Homo sapiens: one gene and its partners. The protein of the gene in region 4 purifies or fractionates together with the protein of the main gene of each other region. This does not show direct contact. Each region holds a gene or a part of one and is shown on either strand. Other genes may lie near its edges.

Evidence for each region. The genes of interacting proteins can lie anywhere in the genome.
Region 1: the proteins of RHOBTB2 (region 4) and CEP72 purify together in Homo sapiens (affinity purification with mass spectrometry, with the first as the bait; one large-scale study listed by BioGRID). This does not show direct contact.
Region 2: the proteins of RHOBTB2 (region 4) and MTO1 purify together in Homo sapiens (affinity purification with mass spectrometry, with the first as the bait; one large-scale study listed by BioGRID). This does not show direct contact.
Region 3: the proteins of RHOBTB2 (region 4) and DHCR7 purify together in Homo sapiens (affinity purification with mass spectrometry, with the first as the bait; one large-scale study listed by BioGRID). This does not show direct contact.

Annotation. Positions count from the first base shown.
Region 1 is NC_000005.10:615,340-619,567, reverse strand, and holds part of CEP72 (centrosomal protein of 72 kDa), read right to left. Parts: intron 1,740-4,228; exon of another isoform or gene 1,719-1,739; intron 579-1,718; coding exon 451-578; intron 1-450. UniProt on the Homo sapiens protein: Involved in the recruitment of key centrosomal proteins to the centrosome.
Region 2 is NC_000006.12:73,482,237-73,486,464, reverse strand, and holds part of MTO1 (5-taurinomethyluridine-[tRNA] synthase subunit MTO1, mitochondrial), read right to left. Parts: coding exon 4,221-4,228; intron 4,017-4,220; coding exon 3,845-4,016; intron 1-3,844. UniProt on the Homo sapiens protein: Component of the GTPBP3-MTO1 complex that catalyzes the 5-taurinomethyluridine (taum(5)U) modification at the 34th wobble position (U34) of mitochondrial tRNAs (mt-tRNAs), which plays a role in mt-tRNA decoding and mitochondrial translation.
Region 3 is NC_000011.10:71,437,666-71,441,893, forward strand, and holds part of DHCR7 (7-dehydrocholesterol reductase), read right to left. Parts: intron 3,776-4,228; coding exon 3,562-3,775; intron 3,172-3,561; coding exon of another isoform or gene 3,121-3,171; intron 1,419-3,120; coding exon 1,214-1,418; intron 279-1,213; coding exon 147-278; coding exon of another isoform or gene 139-146; intron 1-138. UniProt on the Homo sapiens protein: Oxidoreductase that catalyzes the last step of the cholesterol synthesis pathway, which transforms cholesta-5,7-dien-3beta-ol (7-dehydrocholesterol,7-DHC) into cholesterol by reducing the C7-C8 double bond of its sterol core.
Region 4 is NC_000008.11:22,997,450-23,002,936, reverse strand, and holds the start of RHOBTB2 (rho-related BTB domain-containing protein 2), read right to left. Parts: upstream 3,390-5,487; 5' UTR 2,832-3,389; intron 1-2,831. UniProt on the Homo sapiens protein: Regulator of cell proliferation and apoptosis. It likely functions as a substrate-adapter that recruits key substrates, e.g. MSI2, to CUL3-based ubiquitin ligase complexes for degradation. Required for MSI2 ubiquitination and degradation.

The DNA.
Region 1 (4,228 bases), on a different chromosome or scaffold from region 4:
TGTCCGGGCCAATCAGGCCATGCAGACGCAGCCTCCATAATGCTCAGGCATCGGGCTCAGGGCAGGCGCATCCCACGGTTCTGTCAGGGCCAATCAGGCCATGGTAGTTGTGCACAGCTCCCCTCACCACCACCTAGGCATCTCTCTCCAGGGTGACCCTGCCAGGAGCCCAGGAGGCAGCCCCAGGCCCACTGCACTGCCACTCAGTAAGTCTCTGGGGTCTCATTTCATTTCCTTTAAAGATATAATCATCGTCATCAGAGGGCGACAACACAACGTAACGTGATGTGTATGAAATGTAGCCCACGGTAAACACAAAAATACGCAACACAAAGTGTACCGTATACAGATGTAAGCAGAGGGTTACAAAACAGACTCCGTTTCTGCTGTGAATGGACTTTCCACTGATGTTGATAGCAATAAATTTTAAGAAAGAGACCTAAAACTTACCTCCAGACTAACCAAGGAGTTGCGCGAGAGATCCAAAGATTTCAGACCTGTTAAACTCATCAGAGAATGTCCCAGGTGGGTGATCTTCTCTTGGTAAGTTCCAGGAATAGACAATGACTGAAGCTCAGCTAAGAATAGAAAAATTGTAAGATTTTAATCTTTTATTTTGAAAACAATTATAATAACGGTCAAGTTCTTGGTGTTGGATATGGAGTAGAAACTGACACAGATTCTTGGTTTAATTCAACTTTACTCAGGCTCCTGAATCTTCTCCTCGGCCATCTGTGCCCTTCCTTGTAAAGTCCAGTTTAGTGCGGCCAAAACCCCCACCCTCAGTATCTGCTCAGGTTCCTCATCCCCAGATCCCATAGGTGGTGTCTGCTCACCCTGGCCTCTCTTTCGCAATAATCCTGTTCAGTTGGTTTAGCCCAAATCCCCTTACTCCTCATGTGTCCTCTCAGTCATTTTCCATCCACTGCCCCCACCCTGACCCTAGGCTATAAACTCCCCCCGGCCCCTGCTGTACTTGGAGTTGAGCTCCATCTCTCTCCCCCACTGCAAAATCCCAGCGCAGTGGCCCCAGGCCCACCTCAATGGTTCTGAATAAAGCCTTCCTCACTGTGCCTGACAAGGGTCATTCAAAACATTTCTTCCTCTAACAGTATATGTAAAAAGATTGAAAGACAAACTTTAACACATGTGTCCTATTGTGGAATAAATCCCTTTATTTTCCCTCTTACACATTTCTGTATTTTCAGCTTTTCTCAGAGAGATATGTATCCTCGTAATCTGAAAGAGGCACCTAGAACTCAGTGCAACTCCTTTGGAGTTGGAATATCAGCACTGACGAGCAAGGAACGTACCTGAAGTTTCGGCTTATGTTTATCTCTACAATACCTCCAAGCCCACACGCTTCTTCCCACCTTTACTGCCTCTCCCTCCAAAACCGTCTCTCCCCAGGAACACCCCTCTACTTCATCTCCCGCCTCCACTTCTGGCTGCTCAATTCTGTCACCCCTTGCAGCCATCACCATCTGAAACCCACTCGTCGGGTAACCTGTCTGCTGTCCTCCTGTTACAACTGTGGTCGGGCTGTGCAAGCTCCACGCACCCCATAAGCAGTCACTACATCAACATTAATTACAAGATGAAAGTTTCCGTAATCAAAAAGGCAGTTTAGATCCGAATACATCAATACTTTCCTGGGAACATTTATGTTTTAGAATATGTTTTGGTTTTTTTGTTTTTGTTTTCAGATGGAGTCTTACTCTGTTGCCCATGCTGGAGTACCGTGGTGCGATCTCGGCTCACTGCAACCTCCACCTCCTAGGTTCAAGTGATTCTCCCGCCTCAGTCTCCTGAGTAGCTGGGATTACAGGGACACGCCACCACATCCGGCTAAAACCCCACGTTTCCCTGTTTCCTCAGGTAGCCCTCAGGCATCGTCTCAGGTGCAGCTAAACAGCAGGATGCTGCCTGGTTTTGCCCCACTTGGAGGCACACAGACAAGCAGTTCATTGTCCCCCACACCCTGCCACCGGGACAGGGTCAGGAGGGGACAAGGTGCAGTGACCTTTGGCTCATGTTACTGAAAGAAAAGGGTTTCCGTGACAGTCTTGTGGTTTCCTGACCATGTTGGCCAGGCTGGTCTCGAACTCCTGACCTCAGGTGATCCATCCACCTCGGCCTCCCAAGACTACAGGCATGAGCCACCACACCCAACCAGAATATGTTCTGATTAAGTTTAAAATTTGGTTTGAGCTCTTCCAGTTCCAGGCAACATGGAGAGGACACATTTCAACCTGCTCCTCCCGCATATTAGACCCACTGCCCTGGAGGAAAATATACGGAACAAGCATTGGGGGACTGAAAGGAACAGAAGCCAACCAGCCAGGGGCCTCGGCACTCGAGAGAGAACCCAGCGCTGAGTCCCTGGCTTGACTCTGGGGTTTTGTTTATGCTTATTTACTACACATCCCACTCTGGGTGCCACAGAAGTCGGCAGCCCAGAAACACAAAAAGACCAAAAACCGTAAGCCTGCTCTCGATGGCCAAAGGACCAGGAGGGGCCTGGCAGGACAGACTCTCTGTACATCATCAGCCCTCCTGCAACCACACACACTGTTCACATCATCAGCCCTCCTGCAAGCAAACCCCCACCCACACACACAACAACACATACACACACGCACACACCCCTCGTCCACTTGGCACCAGGAGGGGCCTTGCAGGACAGACTCTCTTCACATCATCAGCCCTCCTGCAAGCAAACCCCCACTCGCGCGCACACACACACACACATACACACACACACACACACACCCCTCGTCCACCTGGCCTTGCGCAGCAGCCAGCACCGGGGTGTGAGAATGGATCCTGACTGCTGTCCCGGCCTGGCTAGAACGAGGTGGTGCCCTTCACTCTCCCAGCCAGTAGGGTCTGCCAGAGGCCGTGGGTGAGGCAGGAGCTCCATGACTGTCCCGGCAACAAGGTGGCACCCAGCAGGCTCGAGTGAGGAGTCTTCTCAAGTAAGGGGATTTAAACAGGAAGCAGAGTCTCATGACATCATACCCAGCATGTCCACAATATGATAAAAAATGACCAAGAACCAGAAAAATGGCAATTTGAATGAGAAAACACAGTCAATCAACAGATACCACCAAGAGAGAACACAGAACTTAGGTCTAACAAGGATTTTAAAGTGACTGTCATAAAAAATACTTCAATGAGCAATTACAAACACCTGAGACAAAGGAAAAACTAGTCTTAGCAAAGAAACAGGAGATATAAAGAAGAAACAAATAGAAATTTCAAAGAAAAATACAATAACAAAAAATCACAAGAGCAGTTTAATAGCAAAATGGAGATGACAGATGAAAACTGTAAAACCGTAGAGAAAAACTAAGAGAATCTGTCACAAGCAGACCTGCCCTAAGACAACTGCTGAAAAAATTTTTTCAAATATAAAGGAAAAACGAAAGAAACCTAGAGCATCGTGGAATGAAGAAAAAATAACAGAACAGATAAACATGCAGATAAATATGTTTCCTCCTGAGTTACTGAAAAGGCTAGGTATTTAAAAAAAATCATAATATTAATACGGTTCTCAAGGTATGCAGAGGAAATACTTAAGACAACTAAATTGTAAAGGGGAGAGGATAGAGACCTAAATGGTGATAAAGTTTCTATATTTCACTTAGAAGTAGTAAAATACCTGTACAAGTAAACTGTGTTGAATTACATAAATACATTGTAATTTGTATAGCCACCACTATGAAAACCATACAAGGAGATATACACCAAAACATAACAGATAAATCAAAATGAGATACTAAAAATATTCGAGTAAGTCACAGCAGGCAGGAAAAGGGAAACAGAAGAAAAAACACAGGAAACAATCAAAAAACAATAAAATGGCACACTTAAGTTCTAATATTTAACAATTAGATTAAATGTAAATGGCCTAAAACACTACTACAAGACAGAGATTAGCAGAGTGAATAAAAATAATGAACCAGGAAACTAATTTCAAATATAAAGATACAGGTAGGTTAAAAGTTCAAAGCAATGGATAGGAAAAGATACGCCATGCAAAAACCAATCAAAAGAAGCTACCGTAACAACAGTAATATCAAATAAGACAGATGTCTCAACAAAGAAAATTACCAGGAAAAAAGAGGAACAAGGCCCAGGCACCGTGGCTCACACTTGTAATCCCAGCACTTTGGGAGCCCAGCAGAGATCACCTGAGGTCAGGAGTTCGAGACTAGCCTGGCCA
Region 2 (4,228 bases), on a different chromosome or scaffold from region 4:
TGCCTGGCCACATACTGTATGATTCTAGTCAAATCCATAGAAACAGAGTAGAATGGGGTTACCAGGGGCTGGGGGAAGGAGAGAAAGGGGGAGTTACTGTCTAATGGGTATAGTGTTTGAGTTTTGCAAGATGAAAAAGTCCTGGAGATCTATTTTGCAACCATATGAATATACTTAAACTACTGAAATGTACACTTACAAATAGTTAAGATGGTAATTATGTTCTTTTTTGGGGGGATTATGTCTGTAATCCCAGCACTTTGGGAGGCAGAGGTAGGAGAATCACCTGAGCACCAGAATTCGAGATAGTTTTAAAAAAATCTGTTCACAAGGCTTTGAGCTATTCTCAACTCCAAACTTCAAGAACTGCTTTGAATCAAGCCTAAGCCTCAGAGTACAGAGCTCTGGCAAAGAATGGATAAGTTAGCATACTTCAACAAAGCCAGGAGGGAATTTCTGAGCTACCTAACACATCAATACATTTCTCTGTAATCCTGACAGAAAATGTGTGTGTGTGTGTGTGTATGTGTTACGCATAGGTGCACATGTACATGCATTTGTGTATCTCTTCTGTTAAATGCCTGTTCAGAGTCAGGTTCAACTGGTCAGCGCTTACTACATAGTCTGGCATGTATGCAGCAAGTGTATTTTTAACCGGATTTTAAAATCTTTTTAGCTTTATATGTCTGGGCATTGATCAAGTGAGTTCGCTAAAAAAGGCTAAGGCCAGGCACAGTGACTCATGCCTGTAATCCCAGCACTTTGGGAGGCCAAGGCAGGCAGATCTTGAGGTAAGGAGATTGAGACCATCCTGGCTAACACGGTGAAACCCTGTCTCTACTAAAAATACAAACAAAAATTAGCCAGGCATGGTGGCAAGCGCCTGTAGGCCCAGCTACTCAGAAGGCTGAGGCAGGAGAATCACTTGAACCCAGGAGGCGGAGGTTGCAGTGAGCCAAGATTGTGCCATTGCACTCCAGCCTAGGTGACAGAGTGAGACTCCGTCTCAAAAAAAAAAAAAAAGAAAGAAAGAAAGGCTAAGTGGTAGACTGCAAATATTCTCAAATCAAATATGTAGACTGATTCCTCCTGAAGGGAAATATGCCTGAATTAAAAAGGAATCTGGCCAAATTACCTTTTTAAACTGACCTTTTTAAAAAAAATCCATCTAAACAAAATGGCTACTCCTGGGATTGTTATGGTAAAAACATAGCTGATAAGTTTTCATTGTTCATTTGTTCATCTTTTTATTCATCAGTTAGCATCTGAGACTGCTGAAAACGATCACTTCCCACACTCTCAATATTCATCAATACACATCAGTCACATTCAATGCAAGTTCCTATTACACGAATTAGTGTGATATTTGTTATAAAAGAAAGCATAGTGTTATATAAATTCTTTTTTTTTTTTTTTTTGATACAGAGACTTGCTGTGTCACGCAGGCTGGAGTGCAGTGGTGTGATTTCGGCTCACTGCAACTTCTGCCTTCTAGGTTCAAGTGATTCTCCTCCCTCAGCCTCTTGAATAGCTGGGATTACAGGTGTGCTCCACCATGCCTGGCTAATTTTTGTATTTTTAGTAGAGACAGGGTTTTGCCATGTCTGGTCTTGACTTCTGGCCTCAAGTGATCTGCCCACCTCAGCCTCCCAAAACGATGGGATTACAGGCATGAGCCACTGTGCCTGGCCTGTGTTATAAATTATTTGTCCAACTTTTGAAATAATGTGAACCCTCCTAAATTTAAACAAATGAATAAACAGCTGGAGAAATGAGTCAATTTTAAACTGCTTACACTACAACCATTTCCTGGTGCCTAGTGTAAGCCAGTTAGCTAGTAAACAAATATATCCACTGCTATAGTCTGAATGTTGGTAGTATCCCCCACTTAAATTCTTATGTTGGAATCTAATGCTCAATATGACAGTTTTTAGAGGTGGGGCCCTTAGGAGGTGATTAGGGCATGAGGGTTCTGGCGCTTATAAGTGGGATTAGTGCCCCAATAAAAGAGGGTTGGGGAGCTTTTTGCCCTTTTGCTATGTGAGAACACAGCAAGAAGGCACCATCTTGGAAGCAAACAGCAAGCCCTCACCAGACACCTAATCTGCTGGTGCCTTGATCTTGGACTTCAGTCTCCAAAACTGTCAGCAATAAATTACTGTTGTTTATAAATTATCCAGTCTAAGGTGTTTTGTTATAGCAGTCTGAATGGACAAAGATATCCACCATCCTTATTTGTGAATAAGGCTGTCATTTCTATGAATGAGATCCCCTGATATGAAAGATGATTACGCAAATTCTTTAAAACCTGCTGTTACTATTATTAAAAATCTGTTTCATTGCTGGTGCTAGTGCTTTGGGAAACCCTCATGAAAATAAAAACTTGGGCCAGGCATGGTGGCTCATCCCTGTAATCCCAGCACTTTGAGAGGCCAAGGCAGGTGGATCACTTAAGGTCAAGAGTTCGAGCACAGCCTGGCCAACATGGTGAAACCCTGTCTCTACTAAAAATACAAAAATTAGCCGGGTGTGGTGGTGCATGCCTGTAATCCTAGCTACTCAGGAGGCTGAGGCAGGAGAATTGCTTGAACCCGGGAGGCAGAGGTTGCAGTGAGCCGAGATCATGCCATTGCACTCCTGACAGAGTGAGACTCCATCTCAAAAAAAAAAAAAAAAAAAATAGCCAGGTGTGGTGGCAGGCGCCTGTAATCCCAACTACTTGGGAGGCTGAGGCAGGAGAATCACTTGAACCCAGAAGCTGGGAGGTTGCGATGAGCCGAGATCGCACCATTGCACTCTAGCCTGAGCAAGGAGAGTGAAACTCCATCTCAAAAAAATTAAAAACAAAGGAGTTTCCTTGCTATAGCTCATGGACAAGATCAGATCATTCCACATTGCTCCAAGACTAGAAAAGAAAGCAGATAACAACTTTTCTTGGTTTGAGCCTTCTAAATCTTATGAAAGCCAAAAGAACTCAATGGGAGCCACAGAGAAATCATATAAAAAATAAAAATAATAATTTAGAATATATATATATATGTGATTTTTTCTTTTCTTTGAGACAGGGTCTCACTCTCACCCAGGCTGGAGTGCAGAGGCGTGATCTTGGCTCACTGCAACCTCTGCCTCCTAGGTTCAAGTGATTCTCCTGCCTCAACCTCCCAAGTAGCTGGGATTACAGGTGTGCACTACCACGCCCGGCTAATTTTTGTATTTTTAGTAGAGATGGGATTTTGCCACATTGGCCAGGCAGGTCTCAAACTCCTGAACTCAAGTGATCCGACTGCCTTGGCCTCCCAAAATTCTGGGATTATAGGTGTGAGCCACTGCATCCAGCCATATATTTTTTAATACTTAGAAAACAGATGAGTTAGGCCGGGTGCAGTGGCTCACGCCTGTAATCCCAGCACTTTGGGAGGCCGAGGCGGGCGGATCACGAGATCAGGAGATCGAGACCATCCTGGCTAACACAGTGAAACCCCATCTCTACTAAAAAATACAAAAAATTAGCCGGGCGCGGTGGCAGGCGCCTGTAGTCCCAGCTACTCGGGGGGCTGAGGCAGGAGAATGGCGCGAACCCGGGAGGCGGAGCTTGCAGTGAGCCGAGATCGCACCACTGCAGTCTGGCCTGGGTGAAAGAGCGAGACTGTCTCAAAAAAAAAAAAAAAAAAAAAAGAAAGAAAAAAGATGAGTTACAGCTAACGGATTTTGAAAAGAAGCCAAAAACAAGCTACATTCATTTGAAATGTGTAGGTAGGAACACATAGGTAATGTCTCTATGAAATGATCTTATGATCTTATTTTTCTATAAAAAGTGAGAAAGGTCTATATTAAAAATGCATACCTGACAGGCAGACTTCTACTAGTACTTATAGAAGCCTCTGGGATTAATTTTTTCCATTTAGAGCTCAAAAACTCAATAGATTTCAACACAGAAATGCCTTCTTCTAAAGAAGACTTCATCCAACAAGCTCTTTCATATCGTTGTTGGGACACACAGCCAGCGTCTTTATACCCTAGGGAAGGGAGAAAGAGAATATAATGAGAAGTGTGGTTTTTAAAGCAAATTTTTTTGTAGAGACAGTGTCTCACTATGTTGCCCAGGCTAGTCCTAAACTCCTGGCCTCAAGTGATCCTCTTGCCTTGGTCTCTCAAATTGCTTGGATTATAGGTGTGAGCCACCATGCCTGGCTGGATTGCAGGACTCAGGAAAGAGTTACCTCGCAGT
Region 3 (4,228 bases), on a different chromosome or scaffold from region 4:
TGAGCTGGCTAATACACGAGGCCTTCCCTTCTTCCTAGAAACAGGGGGCAGCTTTGGTGCCCCCAAGGACAGACGCTTCTGCAAGGAGAAAGCTTAGCATGTGTCTGCCAAATGCCCCGCTGGGCCAGCTCTGCCCACCTCCTCACCTGCAGCGTGTAAAGATAAGGCAGCCAGACACAGTCGCCCCAGCCCAGGTACCACCCGAAGTGGTCATGGCAGATGTCAATGGTCTTCAGGTACCAGGTTTCGTTCCAGAAGAAGTCAATCACGTAGATGGCCTGCAAGACAGAAGCAGCCGCTGACCACCCCCGGCCCTCCTGGGGCCCCCATGGACCTCGGGGAAATCACACTCCACGCAGATGCAGCAGGGGGTGCTCGGGAGCTGCTCAGCAACTTCCTCAATGCTGGGGCTGTTCCTTCCCTGCGGCTGGGGCTGTTCCTGCCTGGGTCATGGGCAGGGCTAAGGGCTTCCTTGTCCTCAGAACCACCCCGAGCCCATGGCCCTGGCATCTCTCCCAGCCCAGGTTCTCAGGGCTTGCAATGGCGCGTGCCAAGGGGAAGGGATACATTCATCCCATCCAGGTCAACCTCCTGCCCGAGCAACGTCCACAGCTCCTGACAGGCCTCCCTCACCCTCTCGGGTTCTCCTAGCCAGCTCCCGCTGGCTCCCTGGGTGACGCTTCCGAATGCACCTGATCGCTGCCACCCTGCACCCCAGCTCAGCACACACTTTCTGGGTCTTGCTGCTTTTAAGATAAAGAGGAAGACTTCCATGAGGCCTCCAGCCTCACCTGGCTCTGAGCTCCTGAACGCTCTCTGGTCAGGATGCGGGATGTTTCTGAGTGTCCCAGACTTGCCACCCTCTCTCCCTACAGGGGGTTCCTGGAGCATGCACTCTTGCCTCCACTCTACCAGGTTAACTCCCACACACCCCCAGATTCTACCCAGGTGTAATCCCCAAGGGAGACCTTCCTGGACCACGCCTGGCTGCGTAGAACCTGCCTCCTCCCCTCCCAGGGCTGGCAGAGACAGGCACCCAAGGATGGCTTCCTTCACCAAGTGCTCGCCGGCTGCTTCCTGGTGACACCTGGGGAGGGCAGCTGACTCTCTTTTACAAGCAGTAGATTAAGGTCATGGGAATACGCTCTGGCTTGCGGGTTCCCCCAGAGCCTGCCGGCATCGGCGTTTCACCCTCTCCAGCCATGACAGGCACCTGCAGGACGTTGACCAGGACCATGGCATTGGTCACATGGCTGTGGAGCTCCCGCTGCTTCGCTGCGAAGGACAGGTTGATGAGGGTCCAGGCGACGATCCCGGGGCGCCCATTGAAGAACAGCTTGAAGTCAAACCACTTCCCGATCCGAGGGTTAAACTCGATGCCCATCATGTAGTTGTAAAAGAAATTGCCTGTGAATTTGCTTAAAAATATAAATAAAAGATACATTTAGTGGATGAGCATATCTCACAAGATGAAGCCACCTTACTTAGCGAGAGCCCAGCACTGGCCCAGGGTCCTAAAGGGTAACGTGAGACGGCGCAGGCAGAAGCTGGCCATGAGCCGCTGGGACCCCCACGGCTGGAATGCTTGTCGGCTGGTTCCTGGCGCCCTCATTCACTTTGCTTTGCATTCAGCTGCTGCTCAGCAGAGACTTCCTTAGGCAGAAGCCCAGGGGCACCTGCTCTGCACCCGGGAAGGGTGGGAGACCGGCCCTGGGCTGGTACCTGGGTTTCTCTCTACCCTTCTCCAGATGCCCTTGACGCATGGCACAGGTGAGCTGAAGAACTGGCTTGATTGCACTGAGATTACGTTCTGGGGCCCAAGCACACGGTTTGAAGCCGACGCAGGGCACGTGGGCCCTCATGGGTGAGTGACATTATAAATCACGCCAACGTAGAGAATGACAAACGCACCCTGGGCCCGGCTTCCAGCATGTGCAGGACAAGTTCTTTGACCAGTTACCTGAATCCCCCAATCCCCGGAGGGCCAGAGCATCAGCCGAGATAACCCCTGTGGAGACCCTGACTAGGTCTAGCTGGCTGAGGACACACAACAATTTCTGTGTTAACTAGAAAATCCTATTTTCATGTCCAGTTCCCTCAGGTAGGGTAAGTAGAAAGAAGCAAAACACACAAAGTCTACATGATTATAAGGTAGCGAGGATGATTTCCAGGAGCCATTGAAGGCCAGCCTCGTTATCTGATAACACACAAGCTACAAAGTGTCATCCTCCAGAAACATTTCCCAAGAGCCTAGGTGTAAACCACACTGGGGTTTTTTGGATCCCCCAAACTGAACTGTAAGTCCCACTGCCTACAACTGTCCACAAGAGAACCCCCCAAACATTGGTTTATGATGGATGGATGGATAGATAACAGGGTGAGTGGGTGGAAGGATGGATGAATGGGATGGGGAGAGGAGCAGGTGGATGGATATATGATAGGCAGGGTTGAGCTGGGGTGCAGGGTGGCAGGGATCAGGTGTGTTCAGAAGTGTCACCCAGGAAGCCAGAGGGAGCAGGCTAGGAGGGCCTGAGAGGGTAAGGGAGGCCGGTCAGGAGCTGCGGACATTGCTCAGGCAGGAGGTTGACCTGGATGAGATGATGCATTCCTTCCCCTCGGCACATGCCATTACAGGCCCTGATAGAGTGGATGGATGGGTAAATGGATGGATGACGGGCAGGTGGATGGGTGGGTGGCTAGATGTGTAGGTGGGTGGGTAGGTGGATAGGTGGATGGACAAATAGATGACGGGTGGGTAGACAGACGGGGTGGAGGGTGGATGGGCAGGTGGATGAGATGGATGATGGATGGGTGGGTGGGTAGGTGGAAGGATGGGGAGATGGGCAGGTGGATGGGTGTGTGGCTAGATGTGTAGGTGGGTGGGTAGGTGGATGGGCAGATGGATGAATGGGTGATGGGAGGGTAGATGGATGGATGATGGGTGGGTGGATGTGGGTGATGGATAGGTGGATGGATGATGCATTGGTGGGTGGGTGAATGGGATGGGGCAATGGGTAGGTGGATGATGGGTGAGTAGGTAGATGAATGGGTAGGGGGGTGGATGGGTGGGTGGGGAGATGGGCAGGTGAATGGATGAGTGGACAGAGATGAGTGGCTCACCACTGTCCAGCCATGGGAATGGGTACAAGCCAGCAGGGCTCTCCTGGGAAGCTGTTAATTAAAGCCACAGGGACAATAAGACTCTTCACTAAGGTTGTTTTGGGCCTCACCAGCTTATCCAAAGAAAGAGGCAATGGGCTGCCTGTGCCCCAAGCCAGAAGTTTTTCCTGGCTTCCTTACCCCCACGCCAGCCCTAAAGGCAATGACTTGGCCACCACAGCTGACCTGGCCATCTTCAGCTGCATTCTTGCCAAGGCTGGAGAAGCCACCAAACATTCAGAAAGGATGTTCCCCAGGGTGAAGCAAGTTCCATCCCCCTCCTCCTCTTCCACGGATTCTCAGTGCTCAGGGCTTTACAACCACCTGCCCCAGGCAGCAAGAAAGGCCAGGGGTGAAGTTTGCACTTTCTACATCAGGCTGGACCCGCTGCTAAGAACATACCAGTCTCTGGCGCTGGTGGGGAAGAAGTAGCCCTTGACCATGGCGAAGGTGGAGACGGCATAGCCAAGGATGTTGGCGCACCACAGCAGTGGGATCCAGTTGTCGAAGATGATGGTGGGCGAGAACCAGGACAGGAGATGAGCGTTTGCAAACCAGAGCAGGTGCGTGAGGAGCCAGGCTTGCAGGCCATTGATCTGATACTTGTTCACAACCCCTGCAGATGAAGGATTCAGAAATGAAGGCGCTTTCCCAACCCGCAGTGAGGAGCTTGGCTGGGCTGAAGCATGCCTGGCGGGGGCCCTGGTCACTTTCTGGGCCTCTGCTGCTGCGGACCCTCATCTGGGGCCCCAGGAACCATCTCTGAGGCCCCTATACCCTTGGCCAAGGAACTACCTGCTCCTAGGAAGAGGGAGGGGAGGCTGAGTCCATCCTTTGGTTCTGCATCTCGTTAACTGGCCATAGGCTGAGTGACAGGTGTGCAGTCTGATAGGGAGGTCAGGGCTGAGGGGCAGAAGCAAGTGAGGATGCCCCTGTGGTATGCCTGGCCCCCTCTGTAATTGTTGGGGAGCACCTCAGCCCATCCACCCCTCAAAACAGGGAGCTTCTGGGGGCAGAGTTGGGATGCGGTTCCAGTCTGCACCCACGTGAGAGGCACAAAGCCAGGCTC
Region 4 (5,487 bases):
AATATCCAAGTAACGATAGCAACTGGGATCCGTGCGAGTGGATGCATCTCAGCAACCTAAGCAAAAAGTGCAGCAAGGACTTCTCAATGAGACAACCTCCTCCGCCTTTTTGGAATGTTACAGGATCTGGACCCTTCAACGAGGTCTCCATGCAGTGCCCTCATGGTCTCCAGGGCAACTGTACCACCCCTTCTCTCTCCTAACCCTCCCTCAGCAGACAACCGTTTTTTGTTTTTGTATTTTTTTGAGACGGAGTTTTGCGCTTGACACCCAGGCTGGAGTGCAGTGGCATGATCTCGGCTCACTGCAGCCTCTGCCTCCTGGGTTCAAGTGATTCTCCTGCCTCAGCCTCCCAGGTAGCTGGGATTACAGGTGTGTGCCACTATGCCGGCTAATTTTGTATTTTTAGTAGATACGGGGTTTCGCCATGTTGGTCAGGCTGGTCTTAAACTCCTGACCTCAAGTGATCTGCCCGCCTTGGCCTCCCAAAGTGCTGGGATTACAGGCGTGAGCCACCACACCTGGCCCAGAGAACTGTTAAGAACTGTTATTCTAACCACAGGCTTCCTCCTCCCAATTCTCTCTCCTGAACTGAGGACCGGGAACCCCACTTTGACAGTTCCTGATCTCAAGTTGAGGAATGTGCTGGCGCCAGGAGGCAGCATCTGGGCTGTGGTTTCTGTTTTGTCGAGTGAATACCAAAACAGATATAATCCCAAATACAAAATATGTGCAGCTGGAGGATAAAGATTAAAACCCAAGAGCCAAAAGAACTTCTTTCTCAAGTTCCGATTCTCCCAGCATGTAGGTCTGTAGACAGAAGCGGGGGAATGAGGAGGCCTAATGGAGGGATGCCAGTTCTCAAATTCAGGAGCACCTTGACAGTGAGAATAATGCCAGAACACCAGCAGAGCAGTGCTGGGCCAAGTTCAGCTACTTTGTGATGAAAACACTGCTGCCCACCTGTGCTATGTCACCTCTAGAGTTAAGCAGTGGTCAGCCAATCAACAAGTGGAAATTGACAAATACTGTGCCATGAGTTTAGACATCAGACCTTCTGGGTTGCGCAACCCCTTCCATCCATTCCCCAGCCCCTTCAGCAGTCCCCTTGTCCTTCAGCTGCCTCTCTGTTTGTATCATCTCACCCTTTCTACCCTGTCCCAACTGCCTGACTGGCAAACTTCACTGTCCTATCTAGGAAGAGGCAAGTCACTTATATTTTCTGGGCATCAGTCTCCCCCTCTGGGAAATGGGTATGAAGACATTGGAAGAGTCTCCTGAACCGTGGTTAATTTGTGCCAAGAGAGGCTGGGCTGAAAGGAGGTATTTGTCTTCTTATGTAATGTGGTATTATATAATGCTAGATTGCATATCTATATGTGTAATTATATCTGTCTTTAAGATACAGACTGGCCCAATTCAAGTGTTAGAACTCTTAGTCTAATCAGGCCTGTCTTAAAGGAGGATCCTGTCCTGGAGAGAGTGTGCCAAGAGTAATATAATTTTTGCCCTAGGATGTTGCTGATGTTGTATCATTGCTGATGTATGGTGATACAGCCCACTCATTGCTGATATATGGTGATACAGCCCATTCAGTGAGCCTCTCAGCTTCCCCTCTCCCTCCGGCTCTCTCTTCTTCCCTGACTCCAGACTCTCCCTCACAATTGCCTCATCCCCACTCAATCAACCTCCATAAACTATGACCTCCTCACCACCCAGCCCTGGGCATCACAACCCCCAACTCACTCCTCTTCCATGACAATCGCAAAGTCACTGGCATGTGTTCCTTCCATCCCTGTCCCATGATCCCTGTGCCCCTCCAAAAACAGCCTCCTGCCCACCGCTCTCCCAGCTCTTTGTACTTGGTGCAAGCCAAAACCCAAGGTGTGCTGAAATTAGCTACAAACCTCGTGCTCTCCCAGTCCCACCCCCACACCCCTACACACACTCTTTGCAGAGCTCAGAAAGGGCCCCTTTCCCTCCCACAGCTGATAGGAGGCTTGTTCATCTGTGGCTGCCCTAGTCTGGTTGTCAAGGAAACAACAGAATCTCCCTGGGAGCCTGGCTTGTCTCCTAGCAACCAGTATCCCACATCATCTTACAAAATGGGAATGGGAGGAAAATCCTGAAAATGAAGGTAAAATCAAGGGAGATGGATTGAATGGAGAATTGGAAGGAGAAGAACAAAGAGAGAGTGGACTCCTAATTCGGGGAGGCTCCCACGGGGGTCGCTGGCATTGCAAGAAGCCCCGTGCAGATCCAACAGAAAGCAAGGCCCAAAGGGACCCTGAATGGTCAGATTAAAGAAATGCAAGCCTAAACACAGATAAGCCCCCTCAAACCTAAAATGTGGACACATCACCAAACACCGCCAAAGATCTCCCCAGTAGTTTCACAGAACTCAGTTACATAGACTGCAATGGAGTTGAGTTCAAAGAACCAGCTCCGGAACCGCCAGCAAAACACCCCAATTCCACTGTTGTTTTGTGTTTGTTTTCTTAACAGAATCACTCCCACCACTCTGGACCGTTTTTCCTTTTTTCTGACACGCTACTCTGCACACACACAAAATAGAAATTTAAAAATTTTTAAACATCGAGAAGGGGGAGGGGCACGACAGGCCGAAGCAATCAAGTCATCTTCCTTTCCCTAGAAACACCGGAAAGGATTAGGCTCCAGCCCCGCTGTACCCAGCAGCCGAAGCCAGAGCCCAGGGACTAGCGGGGCCCGGGGAACGTAGCGAGGGGCGCGGCAGGGCAGGGAGGGCGGAGCGGCGCGTCTGCAAGGGCTGCTGGCCACCCCGCCATAACCGCAAGCAGCCATCTACTTACACCACTACATGTGACGGGGTGGCTTCTAGCGTGAGGAACACATCTCTTCCTGCTGAGCACGCTCATTTTAGTGAAATGTCAGGGGTCCCTCCGCGCCTGCAAGTTGGGACGACGCCGGCGCCGCCGCGCTGCTGCTGGGCTCCAGCCTCCCGGCCAGCTCGCGGCCACTCAGAAACTCCGGCAGGGCAGCCCAGGCCGGACGTGGGCCCAGGAGCGGACGCGCGCGCTGCACTGCAGCCGCTGCCCCTTCCGGATCAGCATCGCCCCGCGCGCCAGGCGCCCAATGTCACGGCGGCGCGCGGAGCCGGGCTGCGGAGGCAGCGGGCGGCGCGCAGGGGCGCCGGGAGAGGGGCGAGGCCGCCGCCGCTACGCGCCCGGGCCCGCGGCGAAGGCGCTGCCGCGAAGACGCCTGGCGCTGCAGTCCCAGGTACCGCTCGCGACCTCCTTTTTTCATTCACAAAAAAAGGATAGGGAAAAAAAAAAGAAAAGAAAAAAACGGGAGGGTAAAAAAAGGAGGAGAAAAAAATCGCACCCAAGACGACAGCCGTGACGGGCCCCGCCCACTGCCGCGCGCAGTTGGTGGAAAGCGTTCGGGGGGCGGGGAGGGGGCGGGCGGGGGAAGAAGGGGATTGGACGCCCCGCAGATCCCGCCTCGCAGCACCGCTCCCGCCCACCGCCCGCGCTCTTCCGCCCCTCCCGCAGCGACGCCGCGGGGAGGGTCTCGGCTCGCGGGTCTGGGTGGCGCCGGTCCCTCCACCTGGCGAGGCGCAAAGGCTCTCCGGACGCCCACGGGGTTTTCCCCTTTCCTTCGGGAGGCGGGGGAGAACCTCTGAGAGGCATCCTAGTGCACCCTGGAAGGGATGCTAGTTGGAGGAGAACGTGTGGTTGTAAGCCCAGGCCCCCACCACTTGCCCACGGGGAGGCGACGGCAGGGGCAGTCGGGGGGGCGGGGGGCGGGGGCCGGGTAGGGACGAATAACCGGCGTTTCCATACAAGCCCTCTGCTGCTTTGGGAATTTTCGTGGCACTTGAGAGCCTTCCTCCCTCCATGGCCCTTAATGAGTTGTGGGGTGGGTACCTGTACCACGTTACCTGTCTCCCACCTAGGCCTTCTTCAGCGGGTCCCCACCTCCATCCCATCCCCCTCCTGTTGCCTCCTGGAGTTCAGTAATAGCTGCTAATCTCTGAAAGAAACACCATGAAGTGAGTAGCCTCGAAAATCGTCCCTAAGCCTTCTTTGGGTTTTCTGCCTCAATTTACCCCTCTGTAAAATAGAGAGATTCTAAGGTATAACATCTATAACCTGAGGGGTCCCTAGAAGACACTTTCCATATTCAAGGCTGGTTTTATCAGGATAATCTTTTTTTTTTTTTTTTTTTTTTGAGTCTCCCTCTGTTGCCCAGGCTGGAGTGCAGTGGTGCAATCTTGGTTCACTGCAACCTCCGCCTCTTGGGTTCAAGCAGTTCTGCCTCAGCCTCCCGAGTAGCTGGGACTACAAGTGCACGCCACTATTCCCAGCTAATTTATGTATTTTTGGTAGAGACGGGGTTTCACCACCTTGGCCAGGCTGGTCTCGAACTCCTGACCTCGGGTGATCTGCCTGCCTTGGCCTCCCAAAGTACTAGGATTACAGGCGTGAGCCACCATGCCCAGCCAGGATGATCTTGACTGCTAGTGTTAAGTAGTCAGCTCAGTCTGGTTTGATTCATCTCCTCAGTTACCTCTGGACAATTTTTAAAGCCCAGACCAGCCTGCCACCCACCTGAACCGCCTCCACCACTCCTCCATCTTGTGCTCTGAAAATGCAAATCCACTCTAATATTAGTTTATGCAAAATATGATTAGGAAGAGAAATTTACTGCCAAAAGAAAGCCGGGTTAAAAATGAATTTTGTGTTGTCTGAAGCATGCTTCTCATCTGTGAATGCATATACTTGGAAGCTGTCCCTCAAGGTGTTTGTGATCAACGTGCCTACCTACCTGGTCAATGTACAGGAAGTGCTCGGTTGTTGGAGGATGCTTCTCCCACCCCTTTCTCAATCTACTCAGAGCTAGCCAAGAGGTTAACAATGACTGACAGTGCTACTTACTTCTCATTTCTGGTTAGAACTCACCCTCCATAAACCAGAAAGTACTTATTTGAATACATATTTAGGAGAGAAAGTAAACCATGCTCACACATGTTCTTCCTCCACATGTTTGGCATTGAAGAGACTTACCCCATCTTCTGTGTGCCAAAGAGCCCCTGCGCCAGAGAAAATCATAACTTGAGATCTCTGCATGATTCCCACGGCAGGCCAGGGTCTCTCCCACGGACACCCTGTTCCCTCCACCCACCTCCAGAGACCAGCTGAATGCCAGATGCCAGTTGACATCACCTTTCACCTGTCCTGGCAGGACCATAGCCCCTGTGGAGCAAGGAGTAGGAAGACAGAACTCCCGTCCACCCAAAGTCATGAAGCAGGAGAGGGTGGCTGCTCGGACTGTAAGCTAGAGCCAATGCCCTTTCTGCCTTGGGAGAAAAAGCCAGCTCAGCCTGGAAGCCTCAACCAGGCTGGACTGTGTGAATTCCAAGGTGTAGTGTTGATTGGGGTGGAAGGGTCTTGGACAAAAATGTGGGTGTCAAATGAAATTGCACCCCCACAGCCCCCGCCCCGC